Linked DNA regions of Homo sapiens. Changing the gene in region 1 together with any one later gene gives a genetic interaction. Each region holds a gene or a part of one and is shown on either strand. Other genes may lie near its edges.

Region 1 (4,837 bases):
TGGCCTTGGACAACGTGCTGAGGTTGTCATTTCCAAACACACGAGTGTTCCAGGGACACTTGATCTTCTTCCCTCTGACAAATAAATCATGTTTGTTTCTGTGGTAACTCGGTTTTGGAAACTTGTAGGATCTAGATGAGGGTTTCCCATCGTTGGCACTACTGACATTTCGACCAGACGAATCTTTGTCGGGATTGGGTCTGTTTTGTGCATTCTAAGACGTTGAGCAGTATCCCTGGCCTCTACCCACGAGATGCAAGTAGCACCCCCGTCCGTTGTAACAACTTTTTTTTTTTTAAAGAGACCGAATCTCACTCTGTCGCCCAGGCTGGAGTGCAGTGGCACGATGTCAGCTCACTGCAACCTCCACCTCCTGGGTTCAAGCGATTCCCCTGCCTCAGCTTCCCAGGTAGCTGGGATTACAGGCACCCGCCACCATGCTCAGCTAATTTTTATTTTTTTAGTAGAGATCAATTTCACCTGGTCTCGAACTCCTGACCTCGTGATCTGCCTGCCTCAGCCTCCCAAAGTGCTGGGATTACAGGCATGAGCCACCACGTGTGGCCAACATTTTTCTCAGTAATTCTAGACAATTGTCTTTTAATTTTAGATATAAATTATAATGGTAATATCTTTCTGCCCTTGGGGATTCTGATTTCTACCCATTGAATGCTAAGTACAGATATTCTAGAAATATTAGATTATCAGCTGCAAAAAAAAAAAAAAAAAGAAAACCAATTTGCTGCCTCTTCTCCCCGTTGGCATGTCCATTCAGAGCGTGGTGGAGGGCCTTGGTGACTTGACTTTCCTAGAAGCAGCAGTGTTTTATCACTGGGCCACTTTCCATCTGTCATGCCCTAACTTACCCAGAGCAAAAAGCCAGTTTTCTCATCTTCTGAGAGACAGGATGATTTGCTGTCATGAAACCTGGTTTTGCTCCTCAAGCACCATTTATGATGACGGACTGACTTCTCCGCCGGTCGTCCCATTGTTCAGCTTCACCAGGGCCTCTTTGAGAAGCTCTGCTGTCTCCAGTACTGCTTTGATCACCTTCCCAGGAATGTATTCCATAAACAAATCAGGGTCAAGGCCATATGCTTTCATTTGATTCCGAGGGCTGCTTCTCTCAACCAGTTTCCTGCCTGCGAGGGGCTATTTCCCTAAGACTAGAAATACCCTTTGAAGGAGAAAAGCTAAACAAATGTAGTTAGATAAAGCGCACTGGATTAGATCATATACACTGCTTCATTGATGTCTTCCAGAGCTATGATCGTTTGAATGACTTACAGTGCTTAAGCTCATTTCATGACACTGAGGGTGTGCCAACTTTCCGTGAGTGCCTCGTGACCCAGCAGCTGTCACCACAGGTCATGTTCTTTCTGTTTGTTTGACAGCTGGCTTAAAGGCTGGGGCCATTGGTTGTGGAGGTTTTGCTGCTTTCTCTGCTGCGATTGATTATTACCTCCGGTGAGAGTAATTGCCTGCAGGGAAGGATGATGCCAGCCCCGGATCCGGGCTGCTCTCTGGAGGACAGTTTCTGTACCACACCAGGGCCTTGCTTCAGGGCCTGAAGACATTCATTTTCCCTCATGTCGTTGGTATTCTGAGGGAGCTGCCTGGCTTCTCTGCCTCCAGCCTTTGGGGTAGCCACACTTTGCTGCTCCTGGACTCCAGCCAGCCTTCACAGAGGACGTCCCGTGCCAGATTCTCTCACAGCAGATCGGGAGACAGGATGTTGACATATAGGAATTCAGCTCCACAAAGCTTCAGGCCTGACCACAGCTGGCCCTCTAGGTTGTTTGGTGTTGTGGGCACAGAGGTGACAGTGTCTCTGCAGGCACTCAGGAAGCTGTTCTACCTTGGAACTCCATGCAACTATCCGTCTCGAATACCAGGGCAGGGCAAGGCGGACTGATGCCGTCCAACCAATTATCTCACTTGTTTTGTGTTCTGTCATCCTTGTTTTTTTTTTAAAAATACACTCCCCTCCCCCACCGCCACACACCTTACAGTTCAAAAGGTTGGTTTATTTGTATTTTATTTTCAAATTCCCTATTCCAAAAATAGTGCCGGGTGGCCCAAAGATAACATCTGAAGGGAAAGAATGAGAAAGCTCCCAGGGAAGCGGGGGATGGGGCGCTGAGGCAGGGTTGTTAGAGGACTGTGTCATCCTCACCAAGCTCATTACATCTGCCAGGGCCTGCCTCAAGAAGCCCAGCCCAGCCTTTTCCTGGGATGCAGTGAAATCCCATCCATGAACTCGATGGGCCCCTCCTGTGCCGGCCGAGAGGCACACACTGCCTTCACGACGTGACTGCTGGACCTGGCCGAGCTTGAGGCCACATGTGAAGGGTCCTGCTGTGGTCATCTTGGTGACTCGGTCACAGCAGCTACTGGCCAAGATCAGACGTCGCTGAGGGGCTGTTCACCACCATCCTCGTTCTCCAGGGTCAAGGAAGTGTTTTAACATGTCGTGTTTTCGACTTGACCTTGTGGTATTTTTCTTGGCCTAGTTGTGTGCCATGGATATTAAAAAAAAAAAAAAAAAAATCCGTCTACAGTTGGGCTTCAGCACTGGTGCTGCTTTACCCTGGTGCTCTGTGGGGGGATGACACTGCTGGAGTCAGGCCTTTGCTCTTGGGTGGGGCACAGGCAGGTCGCTTGGTGGGGGCCACACAGTGCTGGGCACCTTCAGCCAGTGGTGATGAGTCTCCTTTTTCCTATAATACGGTAATTCCTCTATCCTTTCCTTTTTTGCCTTCTTCCTCATCTGCCCTGTCTTCTGGCCCACACACTCTTAACCAGCGTTCACACTCAGTGTACATGGCCTGGAGGCCCGAGTGTTTGTACATGAGTGATGATGTCAAACCCAGCTGGTAACACCTTCCTTGGGTCATGTTTGCCATTTTCTTGGAATGAATGTGAGTTCCTGCTCAGGGCTCATGTCCTTTTACAGTGAATTCTATATAACGCCCCTCCCAGTCTCACAGCTAGGAGGCTTCATCACTGCTAGGCCAGTTGGAGCGTTCCCTAGAGCTCAGAACAAATTGTTTCCTCTGCTGTCCCTAAATATAGGACACCTACAAGCACTCTGAAGCAAGGGCAGACATTCCCACCTGGTACCTGTCAAAGTCCTAGGATGCCTGGGATCTTCCATCTTTCAGTCTAGCACGTGGGACCAAATACAAGAGATGCTGCCCTCACAACAGCCTTGGAAAAGATGAGCGCCAGGGCTGTCAGTACCCATCGGTTCAGTAAGCGAGGCATTGTCCACGCTGCCTATTCACTCGAGAGATGAATAGTTTCCTGTTTTCGATGGCTGGGGAGCCAGTATGAGCTCATAAACCAAACAGCAATTTTCAGAGACATCTGTTCCTGATCTTCAGAATAAACTCAGTGTCCAGTTGCTTCGGCTGGTGGGAGCCAATATTCACGCCACTGACTCTCTCAAAGGGAGGGTGGGCCCTCGGAGACCCAGCTTCTCTGACAAGCAGATTAGACCAAAAGGCTGCCTCAAAGATATGCCACTTTGAAGGAAAGCGTAGAGAAGCGTTTACATAAAAGAAGACGCTTCCTGTTCAGTGGACAACTTCATGCCACTTTCAAGGCACACCGATGGCCAGGTGGGACATTTGTACTGTAGCAGCACATGGCAAAGGTGAGCCAGAAGCAGCCTGGATGCTGGCTGATCCGGAGGCCTTTGTGAAGAGCAAGGAGAGGGCTCCAGCCCACCTCCCCGCAGCTCTGCCCCAGCCCCCGTGGGCCACAGGGAGGCTCAAGGGGAGTGAACTAGGTAAACAGATTCCTGGAAACTCACATCTGGATGCAGCTGGAAGAGTTAAATATTTACATTGGTGGCTTCCCTGGACCACCGCGAACACAAACATCCACACCACAGGGCTGAGTTTTGTGCAAATGATGGGGCTTTGCATTTTTTATTAACATTTTCCTCTCACGTGGTTTACATCAATTTATAATAATCTACATAAGTTGAAACAGAACATAGACAAAAAAATATATCCTTACCAACTTATTAAAGTCAGATATTCATGAAGGGTCCCATCCTACCTGTGTATCAGCAGAAACTGGCAGCCATCAGCCATTGCCCAGCAAGAACAGGCAGACCTGGCGTTTCTTAGCCTGACTCCTGCTGGGCACAGCCCACCCTGCTGGGCACAGTGACTGGAGGTTCCAGGCTGCACAGTCCCTGGCTCCTGACTCCTGCCGGGCGCAGTGACTGGAGGTTTCGGGCTGCATGGTCCCCGGCTCACAGGAGACCCTGCTGGGTGTTTCCTTGGTGCAGTTTAGTCCAGGTCTGGCACCTGACCCTCCCCACTCTGGGGGTGGGATTTATAAATATGAGCCTTTGCATTTCTCAGCCTTTGCAGCCTTCCCATAGCCTGTTCTCACGTTGCCTCAGCGAGCTTGGGGCTGTGGGGCTCCCTGAGGCTGAGACGCGAAGGTGCCCAGTCTGGGCCGTGACTCACTCTGCCCCTTCCTGTCCATCACTTTGGAAGCAAGCAGGAGCCTTCTGTGCCACACACCGACACTCGGATGCCAGGCAGGGACCTTAGGAAGGGCCAGGCACTGCATCTTTAGACTCAAGTTCACCGCCTTTCCCAGGGAGCAAGGGCTCCTTGCTAAGCTGCTCACAGGCAGCCGATGGTCAGTACTTCCTTCCTCTTGGGCATGTCTTTCCTCCGTGCACAGAGTATTTACTGTTCTGCCCAAGGCCACAGGAGTAAACAGGCTCAAAAAGGGCCTCTCACCGCGCACGCGCTGCAGCGTTAGGGCCGGCAAACCCTTCTTTAAGACTCAGCCCTGAGCACAAGCAATG
Region 2 (5,072 bases), on another chromosome or scaffold:
TCATTCTGAAACCCGAATGGCTCAGAAAACTGAAAGGTTCTGCGGACGTTTAGAGCAAGCTATTTGATGGCAAAACCTGACTAAACAGATCAGGGCAGTGAGTCTTCATGCTCATGCTCAGTGAAACATCAGGTTTGGCTGCAGAAACGCTAGTGTGTCTGATTACAGAGACCCAGCTGGAAGTGTTACTCTCTAAAATCTCACAAGAACCAGGCTTTGCGGGATTCCAGGAAGGGACTGGGGCTCATTTCACTCACAAGCTCTGTTCAGCCGAGTAGCTGCCACACAGCAGGAGCTGGGCCAGGGCCTTGGGACACAAGGACAAAAACGCTAGTCTCCGCCCTGAAGGGCTCCGTACATAGGCCAGAAGCCGCACCTGCAATGTATGTGGATTTATAAGGAGGTGCCGAGGACGACCCATACCTGGTTTACGGTGAATCCATGGATCTTGTCTCCTAGTTTATACTGCAGAGCCCTCTCACAAGCCCGGTTACTGTTCCATCGCCACGCTCTGTGGTGTGCATGTCTAGATTAAAAGTCATCTAAGTTAGATGAGTTGCAGGAAAAGTATCTGGCTAACATTATTCAGCCACATAGTGAAAATACTCTCATGTAATAAAGATTATTAAAGAAAAATTAAATATTGCATCTTCCAAAGTCTTGCACATTCCAGAAAACTGATTTCTGGTAAGGTCCTTTCCATTTTAATGATCTTTATCTTAACTAAAGCTTCAATGTTGGAAACCTTTTCTTTACACTTGTTCACAAATAACTATAATACAATTACAGTTTAAATTCCCCTTGTTTAAGAGACAACTCTTAAACAAAAGGGCTTCTTTCCTTCACAGAATCCTCAAAAGCCTTCACAGTATACCAAGAAATTCACACTACAGTTAAATCCCATTACATGCCTACCGAATTGCTGAAAACTTAAAAAGCCTAATATTACCGGGAACTCTCATACACTGCTACAGGGAGTACAAAGTGGAATAACTTTGGAAAAGCACTTGGCATTCTTTAGAAAGGCTGAAGAGGCCGGGCGTGGTGGCTTACGTCTGTAATCCCAGCACTTTGGGAGGCCTGGGTGGGCGGATCACCTGAGGTCAGGAGTTCGAGACCAGCCTGGCCAAAAATTAGCCTGATGTGGTGGCAGGTGCCTGTAGTCCCAGATACTTGGGAGGCTGAGGCAGGAGAATCGCTTGAACCCGGGAAGTGGAGGCTGCAGTGGGCCGAGATCACGCCACTGCACTCCAGCCTGGGTGACAGAGCAAGACTGTCGGAAAAAAAAGAAAAAAATGCTGAAGATTGGAAATCCATTCACCTCTTGGTCTCTATCGTCCACACCTTACACTGCGGCCCCAGCACTCACAGACAAAAATGTCAGCACGAACCCTGACAGTCCCAAACTCAACTCACCCGGAGGTGTATCGACAGAGAATGGATAAAGTGCGGACTAATCGTTCAATTAAAAAAAAAAAAAAAAAAAAAAAAAAAAAAAAAAAAACCTTACCAATATAAGGGCCTACAGTGGCATGTAACAAAGATATGGGTCACATAACGTGAAACAAAAGATACACATGATACAGTATTATCCTAAACAGGTATTATTCAAATAGGTAACAAGACATTGTCAGAACGCATAAAAATGGTAAAATATTAAAAAAAAAAAAAGCAAGGACATTTCTGTATGTTATGACCGTGATAATCTAAGAGGGAGGGAGAGAGTTACGAGCAGTTAGGGGAATCTTCAACTTGGTCACAGGGACACTAATTTTCTTTTTTGAGACAGATCTCACTCTGTTGCCCAGGCTGGAGTGCAGCGGTGCAATCTCGACTCACTGCAACCTCCACCTCCCGGGTTCAAGCAATTCTGTCTCAGCCTCCTGAGTGGCTGGGACTACAAGTGCTCACTACTACGCCCAGCTAATTTTTGTATTTTTAGTAGAGACAGTTTCACCATGTCGGCCAGGCTGGTCTTGAACTCCTGACCTCAAGTGGTCTGCCCGCCTTGGCCTCCCAACATGCTGGGATTACAGGTGTGAGCCACCGCGCCCAACCTATTTCTAATAATTATTCTCACCTGAATGAGATGGCTCACACCTGTAACCCCGCAATGCGAGAGGCTGAGGAGGGGGATCAAACCAGCCTGGGAAACAGAGCAAGATCCCTGCTCTTAAAAAACACGTAATTATTATTCTCTCCAATTGTATTATATGTCGTATGGGATTTTCTACATTAATGTATCCCACCGAAATATTTATTTTAAAGATAATATGTACAGGAAGAAAAAACCTATTCAGTCACTGGCAATATTATGAAGATATGCTATAACCAACATTTGCTTACTGATTTAGCAAATTTCAGAATTATGGGACAGAAGCGTTTTAAGAAGTTACTTATCAAGGACATGATAGGAAACTCCTGAGCGGTAAGGCCAGGCCGAACTCATGCCACGGACGCCCCGTGCCTCCCGGCCTGGGCCGGCAGCGCTGAACTATTACCTTATATTAAACACGGGCTCGTGGATTACCATGAACACTAAACTGCTTCGTCATTTTTTTCCCCATAAATTGAGTCATTAAAAAAACAAAACAGTTCAATTCCGGGAGGCGTCAGTTCTCTGAACACAGCGAGACTTTAAGTATGGGCTGTGGGCGCCTCGGGTCTCTTAAGGACTCGGCCTCCCAACAAAAATGAACTAGGAGCAAAGCTGTCAGCGAGAACCGCAAATGCCGACCCCATTTACTACCCCCGTTAAAGCCCACGCTAATGGAGGGCCCCGCCGGGAGCGCCGCGGGCAGGCCCGGCCCCCAGCCCGGGGCATCGCCCCTGGGAGTAGGAAGGAGCTCCGAGGTCCTCCGGCCTCGGAGCCTCGGATGCGGGAGCTCCAGGAAGGGCTCGGGGTGCGGGACGCCCACAGCTTGGGGAGCTGCCAGCCCCGGGCGCAGGGACGAGGACCCCTACGCCTCCGGCCTGCCCTGGACCCTCCCCTCCCGGGTACCAGCGCGCCGAGCGCCTCCCGTCGCAGCGTCTCACCCGCCGCTCAGCCGCCTCAGCACACACAGGCCCTGCCGCCCGCCGCAGCGCCACATTGCGCATGACGAGCACCTGGCTGGCGAGGAACCCCCTCTTAACCCGACGCAGGGCGCGGGGCGGGGCTTGCCGTGACAGCTACCACTCCTATTGGTCAACGCGAACAGCGACGTCCTCTGCGATAGGCTGTAGGTGAAAAGGGTAGGCCTCCACTGCTCTGGGACGGGCGGGAGGGCGGTGCGGACGGAGATGGGCGGGAGGGGCGGGGCCGACGTGCCGAAGGAGGCGGGCAAGGCGAGGGGCGTGGTACGGGTAGAAAGGGGCGGGGCCGTCTTGCCGAAAGGGGCGGGGTTCGGCCAGCAGCAGGATGTGGACAGATGATAGGAGGGGGAAGTGGGCAGGCGAGAAGTGGGGCGTGGCGAGAGGCGTGTGTATGCAGATGAAGTGGGGCCTGGTGAAGGGCGGGGCTGCGCTGGTGAAAAGAGGGGCTCCTGGAATGGCGTGCTGTGTTGGGTGGGGCTGTGCAAGTGATGGGAGGGGCTTAGCGAGGGGTGGCTCTTTGCAGGTGAGGAGTGGAGACCAGTGGGAGAGGGGATTGCAAGTGAGCTGAGCCTTGGGGGCGGGGCTTGCAGGTGACAGGGTGGAGCCTAGTGGGCGGGGATGCAAGTGAGCTGGGCCTTGGGGATGGGGCTTGCAGGCGATGGGGTGGAGCCTGGTGGGGCGGGGCTGCAGGTGAGCTGGGCCTTGGGGGCGGGGCTTGCATGCGAGAGGTGGGTCCTTGTGGGGGCAGGGCTGGCAGAAGTGGGTGGGGCTTGGTGATGGACCGCGGTGTTCAGGTGAGGGTAGTGGCCTGGTTGGGGGCTGCCGGAAGCTGGGCCAGGTGAAACTTGGTAGCCCTCTCTGGCCTTGGTGTGGGCGTTGGTCCTGTTTGTAGGGCTGAGCTGAGCTCCAAAGGCGTTCTGCTGCCCCGCCAGGCCTGAACCTTGGGGTCTGGGGGCTTCTTGGATGAGATCTCAAGGCTGCATGGCAGGTCCCAGGGCCAGGGCCCCACGGTGTCACACGTATCACGGATGGCCGCCAGCGAAGCACAGCACAGCTCCGAGCTGCTGCATGGGAGCCTGTGGCCCCCGCTGCTGCCTCCGCTTTCCTCTTCGTTTCGTGTCTAGGAAGATGCACCTGAGCCCCCTGACATTGCCCAAGTGCCCAAGGGCCCTTCTGGGAACCCCCAGAGAGGCTGAAGGAGGCCCCCGTAGGAGTGGGTGGTTCTGCACTGTGGGCCAGAAGGGGCCCTGGGATTAGCCACGCTTGGAGAGGGTGGGGTAGCCCTTGGAGGAAGTCCGCACCAAGTCTGACCTTCCGGGTTTCTCAGAGCCTCTCTTCCTTCCTCCCTTCACCTTCTCCCTCTTTTTTTCCCCTTGTATCACGAATACAAACAGGCTCAAATCTCCCTCTGTCTCCTAATGGGCTCTGAAAAAAAAAATTAAAAATTAAATGGTAAGTAGATGGCTGCAGTCGGCTTGAACAAGCTAAAACTTTGGAAGCAATGTGGAAGGTAATACTGTGGGAAAAAGTCCCAACGTGTCTACCCTAAACTCTCCATAGGGCAGCCAGTTCTGGGCTGCAGGTAAACACGTACCTCCTTATTGAAGAGCCCAAAGGAACCAGAACACAGGCAATAATAGGAGCGACAGACACAAACACGCTCTGCGCATCACCCGTCTTCTAGGGAGAATTTGGGTGTGTGCACACAAAATATCCGATCTAGGTCTCAATCAATTTAGAAAGTTAATTTTGCCAAGGTTAAGGGCATGCCCATGACACAGCCCCAGGAGGTCCAGATGACATGTGGCCAACATGGTCGTGGCACAACTTTTTTTTTTTTTTTTTTTTAATACCGTGTCTCACTCTGTCGCCCTGGCTGGATTGCAGTGGCGCAATCTTGGCTCAGTGCAACCTCAGCCTCCCGGGCTCAAGCGAGTCTCCTGCTTCAGCTTCCCGAGTAGCTGGGATTACAGGCACCCACCACTATGCCCAGCTAA
Region 3 (4,294 bases), on another chromosome or scaffold:
ATGTTATGTCCGTGATTTCCAAAGTAAGATTTGTACTCGTCGTCTGTTAAAAGGAAAAGCATACATATACCCTATGTATATATGCACACTTTTTTATTTTTAAATTATATATGTATCTGTACTAATTATTTACATTGTAAGTCAACCCTAACATAATCTTAAAGGATAAGATACAAAACATACTGCATCTAGAAGCTTCAGTACTTTCTTCCTGAATCCCAGTAGATCCTTTTGTTCATCCCACGGGATGCATTCCGCCCCCATCCTCCCACTCCCTTTGGATACCACATTACCACAGCTCTGCATCACTTAACTTTCCTCTTATGTTTTTCACCTTTTTTTTTTTTTTTTTTTTGCATTTTATGTCCTGGGGAATTTCCTTAATTCATTTCATGGTTTTACTGTTGATTTTTTTAATATTGGCCATCGCAACTTTTCTTTTCTTTTCCTTTCCTTTCCTTTCCTTTCCTTTCCTTTTCTTTTCTTTTCTTTTCTTTTCTTAATTTTCTTTTCTTTTCTTTTCTTTTCTGTTCTTTTCTTTTCTTTTCTTTTCTTTTCTTTCACACAGGATCTTGGCGTGTTGTCCAGGCTGGCCTCGAACTCCTGGGCTCAGGTAATCCTCTCACCTTGGCCTCCCAAAATGCCAGGATTACAGGCGTGCGCCACTGCATTTGGCGGCAACTTAATTTTTTTATTTTTATTTTTCCTTTTAGAGGACACCTAGCACTGAGCATTGCAACTTTTCATTTCCATGAACTTTTAAGAAAACTCTTAAAGACATGTTTAATTCTGTACACTTTCTATTGTTCTTTGATTGCTGTTTTTGAATAACAACAAGGAGTACGCCTTAGCATTTTGATGGTATCCTCTTAATAGTCGCAATAATAGTCCCCTTGGCGCTCTGTATACTCTCAAGTCTTAAATGTTTTGTATGCAGCTGTACGTTGACAGTTGAATGGTCTCGCTCCAAGTGGATCAGCAAGAACATAAAGAATCATTTAACTGGTACAGGCTGCGGCTTGTGAATTCCCTATTAACACCAAAGAAGACGTGTGAGACTCCGTACTGAAACTAAAGACGACTTGTGAGTTCCACACTGAGATCAAATAAGTCTTTATGATGGTGACAGAGAGTGGTGTCAACGCCTAAAGTTTTGGTTAATCTCTCTAAATTGAGGGGCTGACCAAAAGGGGGAACTTAACTGTATTAGACATAATTTTGAGAAACATGGGTATGTGGATGGTAATGGAGGAAATGGGTGTAGATGAGATTGCCTAGGGAGAGTGAGAAGTAGGTTAGGTCTAAGCCTTGATGAGTTCCCAACATTTCCAAGGGTAGTTGAGGATACTGAAAATGAGTGGCCAGTGAGATAGAGGTAAAGCTAGAGACTGCCCAGGGGAGAGGAATTTTCAACAATGAGGAGGTGTCAACATTGTCAGGTATTGCTGAGAGGTCAGATAAAACCAGAATTGAGCAAAATGGCCATTGGAAGCCTATGGTGCCCTCCGTAAGAGCTGTTTCGCTGAAGTGATAGAAACGGAAATCAGGCTGGGCACAGTGGCTCACTCCTGTAATCCCAGCACTTTGGGAGGCCGAGGTGGGCGGATCACCTGAGGTTAGGAGTTCGAGACCAGCCTGGCCAACATGGTGAAACCCTGTCTCTACTAAAAATACAAAAAGTAGCCAGGTGTGGTGGCAGGTCCCTGTAATCCCAGCTACTCAGGAGGCTGAGGCAGGAGAATCGCTTGAGCCCCAGAGGCGGAGGTTGCAGTGAGCAGAGATCGAGCCACTGCACTCCAACCTGGGTGACAGAGCAAGACTCCGTTTCAAAAAAAAAAAAAAAAAAAGAAATGGAAATCAGGATGGTTTGGCTTTTATTTTAATAAAATAGCTAGAGCAGGGAAATGGGGTACTTTTTTTCCCCCTTTTAAGATGAGACATAGCCAGGTGCAGTGGCTTACACCTGTAATCCCAACACTTTGAAAGGGAGGGTCGCTTGAGCTCAGGAGTTTGAGACCAGCCTAGGCAACATAGCAAGACCTTGTCTCTACTAAAATTCAAAAAAAATTAACTGGGCATGCTGGCACACACCTCTAGTCCCAGCTATTTATGAAGCTGAGGCAGGAGGATCACACTTGAGCCCAGATACGTGGGGCTGCAGTGAGCCCTGATAATGCCATTGCACTCCACGTTGGGCAACAGAGCAAGACTTCGTCTCAAAAATAAATAAATACCCTGTCTCAAAAATAAAAAATAAATATGGGAGGAGAGATTTGACTTAGATTCCTCAAAGGGCAGGAGGAAAGAGAATTCCAAACAGTGATTCACCTTTAATGGGAGAAAGATCGCTTAATTTTACATGAGGAAGAAGAGGATTGGTGGAGATACAGTAGGTGAACAGTTTTTGTATGAGGAAGTTGAACATGTGTCATTCTAATAGCTTCCATTCTCTGTGAAGTAGAGGGCAAGGTCATCTACTGAGAGTTGGGGAGGTCAAGAGAGATAAGGGGAGATTAGAAGAGCTCTTCTAGCAGAGAGTGGAAGAATGAATTGCTAAGAGAGATGAAGTAGGATTGTTAAGTAGTTTTGAGGGCCCTGTTGAGATGTGCTTCCAGTTGGGTGTGATTTTCTCCAGTAGTGCTTTATTTCCCTGGGTACAGGCAGAGAGAAAAACAATAAGGCTCATGTAGGGTTTGTATTTTGTTGGACAAGTCAAACAGAAAAGTCAGAGGACGAGGGAGTTTAGAATGTTTGCAAAAGAGTTATTGAAACGATGAACCGCATAATCTAAGGTGGTAAGTGGGTGAATAGATAAGGAGGATGTGAATAGGTAAGGAGAAGAAAGAAATATCAGATTATTGATTATTGATGGCGACTCTCTAATACAGCTATTATGCCATTTTAACCGATTAAGAAACTAAGGCTTTAGAAAATTCATAATTTGCCCTAACTGCACAGCTAGTAAGCAGTGGAAATGTGATTGGAACCAGAGTTCTTCTGACTCAATAGACTAAATGGATGTAAGGATGTAGTTGAAAGAAGGGTGAGCTAAACGTTGTGGAACCATGAGCTCTTTCTCTGGTTGATATCCCTCTCTGTAAGTGATAACATGGGTCACGCTGGATAAAACCTTGTGGTGATTGGTGACTTTCCTTTGTCCTTCCTCCTGTGCCTAGTCTGGCGAGTATCTGCCTTTCCCTTTCCTTTCTCATTGCTGCCACCTAACTTTAGGCTCTTCCCCTTACATCTGGGTAACTGAAATAAGATCACCTTTTTGTTCCCCTTCTGATTTACTTTGACCTAACATTATCTTTACTATTTTCTTTAAATTAATGTTTCATTAGTCTTATTCTACTCAGGAACTCTGTAGTTCCCCATTGCCTACGAAAAAAAGTTAAGCCTCAGCCTTATATTCAGTGACTCTTCAATTGGATATTCAGTCCAGTTTTACTCCTCCTATGAGCCTTCTATGCCAGCTCCTTGGGTCTCTTGCCCTTTCATTGTCTCAGCTCTGCACCCTTCTTTCTCTTTTTTATTCTTTTTTTTTTTTGTACTTTTTTGGTTTTCTTTTTGGTTTCTTTTTTTGTTTTATTTATTAAACCTCCATCACACTTCATCCTATGGAGTTTTGAACCACAGCAAGGTGCAGTATCATCCTGGGGCTCTGGAGGAAGTGGCAGGGAGTCCAAAATGTCACCTTAGCTTCTTATCTGGGGCCACATGTATTTCTGCATCTGCTGCTTCCCACACTCTTGCCCACAAGTGTCGCTTGTGGAAATAATTTGAGATTTACTGTCTGGCTGACCCTAGTTTCAATCTCTTTTCCACCATTTGCTAATCATTCTACCTTGGGCAAAACATAGAATTAAAAGAAAACTTCAGACAAGTTAAATTTGATGGAGTTTAATTGAGCAAAGAAAAAAAATGATCCACAAATTGGGCAGTCTCCAGAATCACCGCAGATTCAGAGAGACTCCAGGGGTGCCTCGTGGTCAGAACAAATTTATAGACAGAAAAGGTAAAGTGACCTACAGGAATCAGAATTGAGACATAGAAACAGTGAGATTGGTTACAGCTCGGCGTTTGCCTTATTTGAACGCAGTTTGAACACTCAGCAGTCTATGAGTGGTTGAAGTATGGCCGCTGGGATTGGCCAACACTCAGCTGTTATTACAGATGCATACTACTAAGTTAGGTTTTCGATTTTGTCTGCCTATTTGAGCTAGGTTACAGTTCGTCCACAAGGACTCAAATATAAAAGTACGGAGTCCTCTTCGGGCCATATTTAGTTCGC
Region 4 (3,500 bases), on another chromosome or scaffold:
TTTAGAAGTCATTTGTAGAGAACAATAATCTCTCCTATGGCCATAGCTCTTTTTTAGAGATTAAAAAGATTTAGCAGGTGAGGCCTCAGAAGAAATTATTTCTTTCTTCAGCAAACATTCCCTGCCTTACAGATGAGAAAATCAAGGCACAGACACGTTAAGTCACTTGCCTGTGGTCACAGCTCATAACTAGTAGATCCATCATCACTGATCTTACAGCCTATAGACATTATGCTCTATTATTATTTTATTATCATTATTATTATTATTTGAGACGGAGTTTTGCTCTTGCTGCCCAGGCTGGAGTGCAATGGCGCGATCTCAGCTCACCACAACCTCCGCCTCGCGGGTTCGAGCGATTCTCCTGCCTCAGCCTCCTGAGTAGCTGGGATTACAGGCATGCACCACCACGCCTGGCTAATTTTGTACTTTTAGTAGAGACGGGGTTTCTCCATGTTGATCAGGCTGGTCTTGAACTTCCGACCTCAGATGATCCACCCGCCTTGGCCTCCCAAAGGGCTGGGATTATAGGCATGAGCCACTGCGCTCGGCCTATGCTCTACTTTTAAGAGAGACAAATAATTCTTCAAGGAACTATAAGTAATTTTACTTACAGTTTTAAACCTCTAGGTATATGGTGGGAGGATAGGTGGGACTGGAGGCAAGAGAACAGGATAGTGCAGGATATAAGGTGGGAGATACAGGTAGGGTCTAGGTTATGAAGTTTATGTTTTACCTGTAGGTAGCAAGTCTGTACAAAATGGACCAAAGTCATTAGAGTGAAGATGTGGAGATCATTTAAGAGCAGTAATTTATTTTAGAAGTGATAAAGATATAAAATTAGTGGCAAGGAGAATGAAGGGGATGGATTCAAGTAAGCTTTTGGAGTGGAATTCTCAGACATTGGTGATTAATTAAATGTGAGGCTGGAGGGAGAAGGAAAAGTTTAGGATGACTCTCAGGTTACACAATTGGTTCTTGTTCAACAAGAAAGAGGGTAAGAGAGAAAGAAGCCAGTTGGAGAAAATATGATCACTGGCTTATCTGCCTGCTAGAATTAGAATGGCAAAACGTTGTTTAGAGAAGAAATTATTTCTTCTCTTTGCCACTCAGTTTATTCATAGTACTCACAAAAATGTCAGCTCTATTAGGAGATCCGTGCTTTGGAACCATTAAGAAGTCAGCTGCCCTCTGGAGCCCACCATGCATATTCATGTATAAGTTTAAGAATGTTATGAATCCTGACTTTGACATGAGCTCTTGTAGCTTAAGTAACATACTTTCTGTTTACTCTATAATTCCTGACAGCCTTGTTCAGTATTAATTCTCCAAACCATGGCACTCTGTGTTGTTGAAAGTATTCTGTATTCAGTATTCTGGTACATCTGATACCCTGTGTGAATCATGGCAGAGACAGATGGGCAATCGTGTACTGTTGCCAGCAAATAAGACCTACCATCTGTTGGTATTATCACACATTCAAATTCTTACTTTATCTCACTCACTAGTACATGCAGAAAATAATAAAGAGAAGGAAGAAATATCCTATTGGACCAAGCTTACTGATTTATTTGAAATAAAGGTAAGGTAAGCAGGATATTTTGTGATATAGAGGGTATGTATGACAGTCTTAAGTATGTAAATTTAGAGAGGGGTCAGAGAAAAGTATAATACTGGAAAGATGTCTGACAACTTAGGAATGGAGCAGGTATATAAAAAGGGACATAGAAGTTCTTGAGAAAAGTTGCTCAATAGGGTCCAAGTAAAGAGAATTTCAGATAATGAACATTATAAACATATCCATTTCCTTTGACTCTTTACCTCCACATCTGGGACTCTAGCTTAAGGAAACACTTTCAAATATAGAAAAAATAGTATTCATTAAGCTCTTTAGCCTAACATTATTTATTATTATGAAGAATTAAAAGCAACCAAAATATCTAATTGAGGAATGGTTAAATTATTGGATTGTCATTCAATTAGATATTATGCACACATTAAAAATGATTATAACTAGTTTCGGCCGGGCTCAGTGGCTCACGCCTGTAGTCCCAGCACTTTGGGAGGCCGAGGTGGGTGGATCACCTGAGGTCAGGAGTTCGAGACCAGCCTGGGCAACATGGTGAAACCCCGTCCCTACTAAAAATACAAAATTAGCCGGGTGTAGTGGCGTGTGCCTGTAGTCCCAGCTATTTGGGAGGCTGAAGCAGGAGAACTGCCTGAACCTGGGAGGCGGAGGTTGTAGTGAGCCAAGATCACACCATTGCACTCCAGCCTGGGCAACAAGAGTGAAATCCCAGCACTTTGGGAGGCCAGGGTGGGTGGATCACGAGGTCAGGAGATCGAGACCATCCTGGCTAACATGGTGAAACCCTGTCTTTACTAAAAATACAAAATAAATAAATAAATAAAAATTAGCCGGGCGTGGTGGCGGACGCATGTAGTCCCAGCTACTGTGGAGGCTGAAGCAGGAGAATGAGATGAACCCGGGAGGCGGAGCTTGCAGTGAGCCGAGATCGCGCGACTGCACTCCAGCCTGGGCGACACAGCGAGACTCGTCTCAAAAAAATATATAAATAAAATAAAATAAAACAACAACAACAACAAAAATGATTATAACTAGTTTCTTAACTAGAGAAAGGACACTTGGAATTAATGGAATTTAGAAAATGATTCAAGCAGCATTGTTTGAATCTTCAGTTACTAAAGGAAGCTTTTTAGATGAGATTTCTGTGTCCATAAAAATAAATTCCAGTTGAATTAAAATTAAAACTTGAAACCATAAAAGGCCTTGAAAGAAAAGACCCATGTTATCATTTTTATGAGCACAGAATGAGGAAGACATAGAGCGAATAGTAGAAACCATGAATATTTTTTATGTAACAGTAACACCTTTATTTTTTATTTTTTAAATACTTTATTAGAGCAGTTTTAGATTCACAGCAAAATTAAGAAGGTACGGAGATTTCCCCCCTTACAATGATGAACCGACGTGAATATGTCATTACCACCCATAGTTTACATTAGGGTTCACTCTTGGTGTTGTAGGAAACCATGAATACTAATAGATTTGACTACCTAAATTTTATATATCAAAAACTAAAAACAAAGTAAAATTAAAAGGCAAACAAACTGTGGAATACATTTATGTCATGTATTACAAAGGACCAATGCTGATATTTGAAGTGATCTTACGGATCAGTAAGAAAAAGTTGAATACTTTAGGAGAAAACAAGTCAGGTTATCAGTAGGCAACTCGCAGAAGGACCAAAAAATGGTCAAAAGTACGGGGAAAGTTCAGCTTTACAAATGGTCAAAGAAATGTAAATCACATTGCAGATTTGAATAAAACGAGCTTGCCCAAGGTTATGAAAGGGTCTGCTTTTAGAGTATAATTTGATGACATGTATCAAAATCTTTTAAATTTTGTGTAATAATAGCATTTACTACCCTCTCTGTGAGGCATAACATTAAACATTGGACAAAGATTAGCTCATTTA

The links.
Region 2: changes in TIMM22 (region 1) and PITRM1 together harm fitness more than expected from each alone (negative genetic interaction), as found in Homo sapiens cells (one large-scale study listed by BioGRID).
Region 3: changes in TIMM22 (region 1) and OPA1 together harm fitness more than expected from each alone (negative genetic interaction), as found in Homo sapiens cells (one large-scale study listed by BioGRID).
Region 4: changes in TIMM22 (region 1) and MBTPS2 together harm fitness less than expected from each alone (positive genetic interaction), as found in Homo sapiens cells (one large-scale study listed by BioGRID).

What each region holds. Positions count from the first base shown.
Region 1 is NC_000017.11:999,618-1,004,454, forward strand, and holds the end of TIMM22 (mitochondrial import inner membrane translocase subunit Tim22), read left to right. Parts: intron 1-1,394; coding exon 1,395-1,471; 3' UTR 1,472-4,054; downstream 4,055-4,837. UniProt on the Homo sapiens protein: Essential core component of the TIM22 complex, a complex that mediates the import and insertion of multi-pass transmembrane proteins into the mitochondrial inner membrane. In the TIM22 complex, it constitutes the voltage-activated and signal-gated channel.
Region 2 is NC_000010.11:3,169,681-3,174,752, forward strand, and holds the start of PITRM1 (presequence protease, mitochondrial isoform 2 precursor), read right to left. Parts: upstream 3,103-5,072; 5' UTR 3,100-3,102; coding exon of another isoform or gene 3,093-3,099; coding exon 3,037-3,092; exon of another isoform or gene 2,534-3,036; coding exon of another isoform or gene 2,502-2,533; intron 527-2,501; coding exon 424-526; intron 1-423. UniProt on the Homo sapiens protein: Metalloendopeptidase of the mitochondrial matrix that functions in peptide cleavage and degradation rather than in protein processing. Has an ATP-independent activity. Specifically cleaves peptides in the range of 5 to 65 residues.
Region 3 is NC_000003.12:193,595,863-193,600,156, forward strand, and holds part of OPA1 (dynamin-like GTPase OPA1, mitochondrial), read left to right. Parts: intron 1-4,294. UniProt on the Homo sapiens protein: Dynamin-related GTPase that is essential for normal mitochondrial morphology by mediating fusion of the mitochondrial inner membranes, regulating cristae morphology and maintaining respiratory chain function.
Region 4 is NC_000023.11:21,846,117-21,849,616, forward strand, and holds part of MBTPS2 (membrane-bound transcription factor site-2 protease), read left to right. Parts: intron 1-3,500. UniProt on the Homo sapiens protein: Zinc metalloprotease that mediates intramembrane proteolysis of proteins such as ATF6, ATF6B, SREBF1/SREBP1 and SREBF2/SREBP2.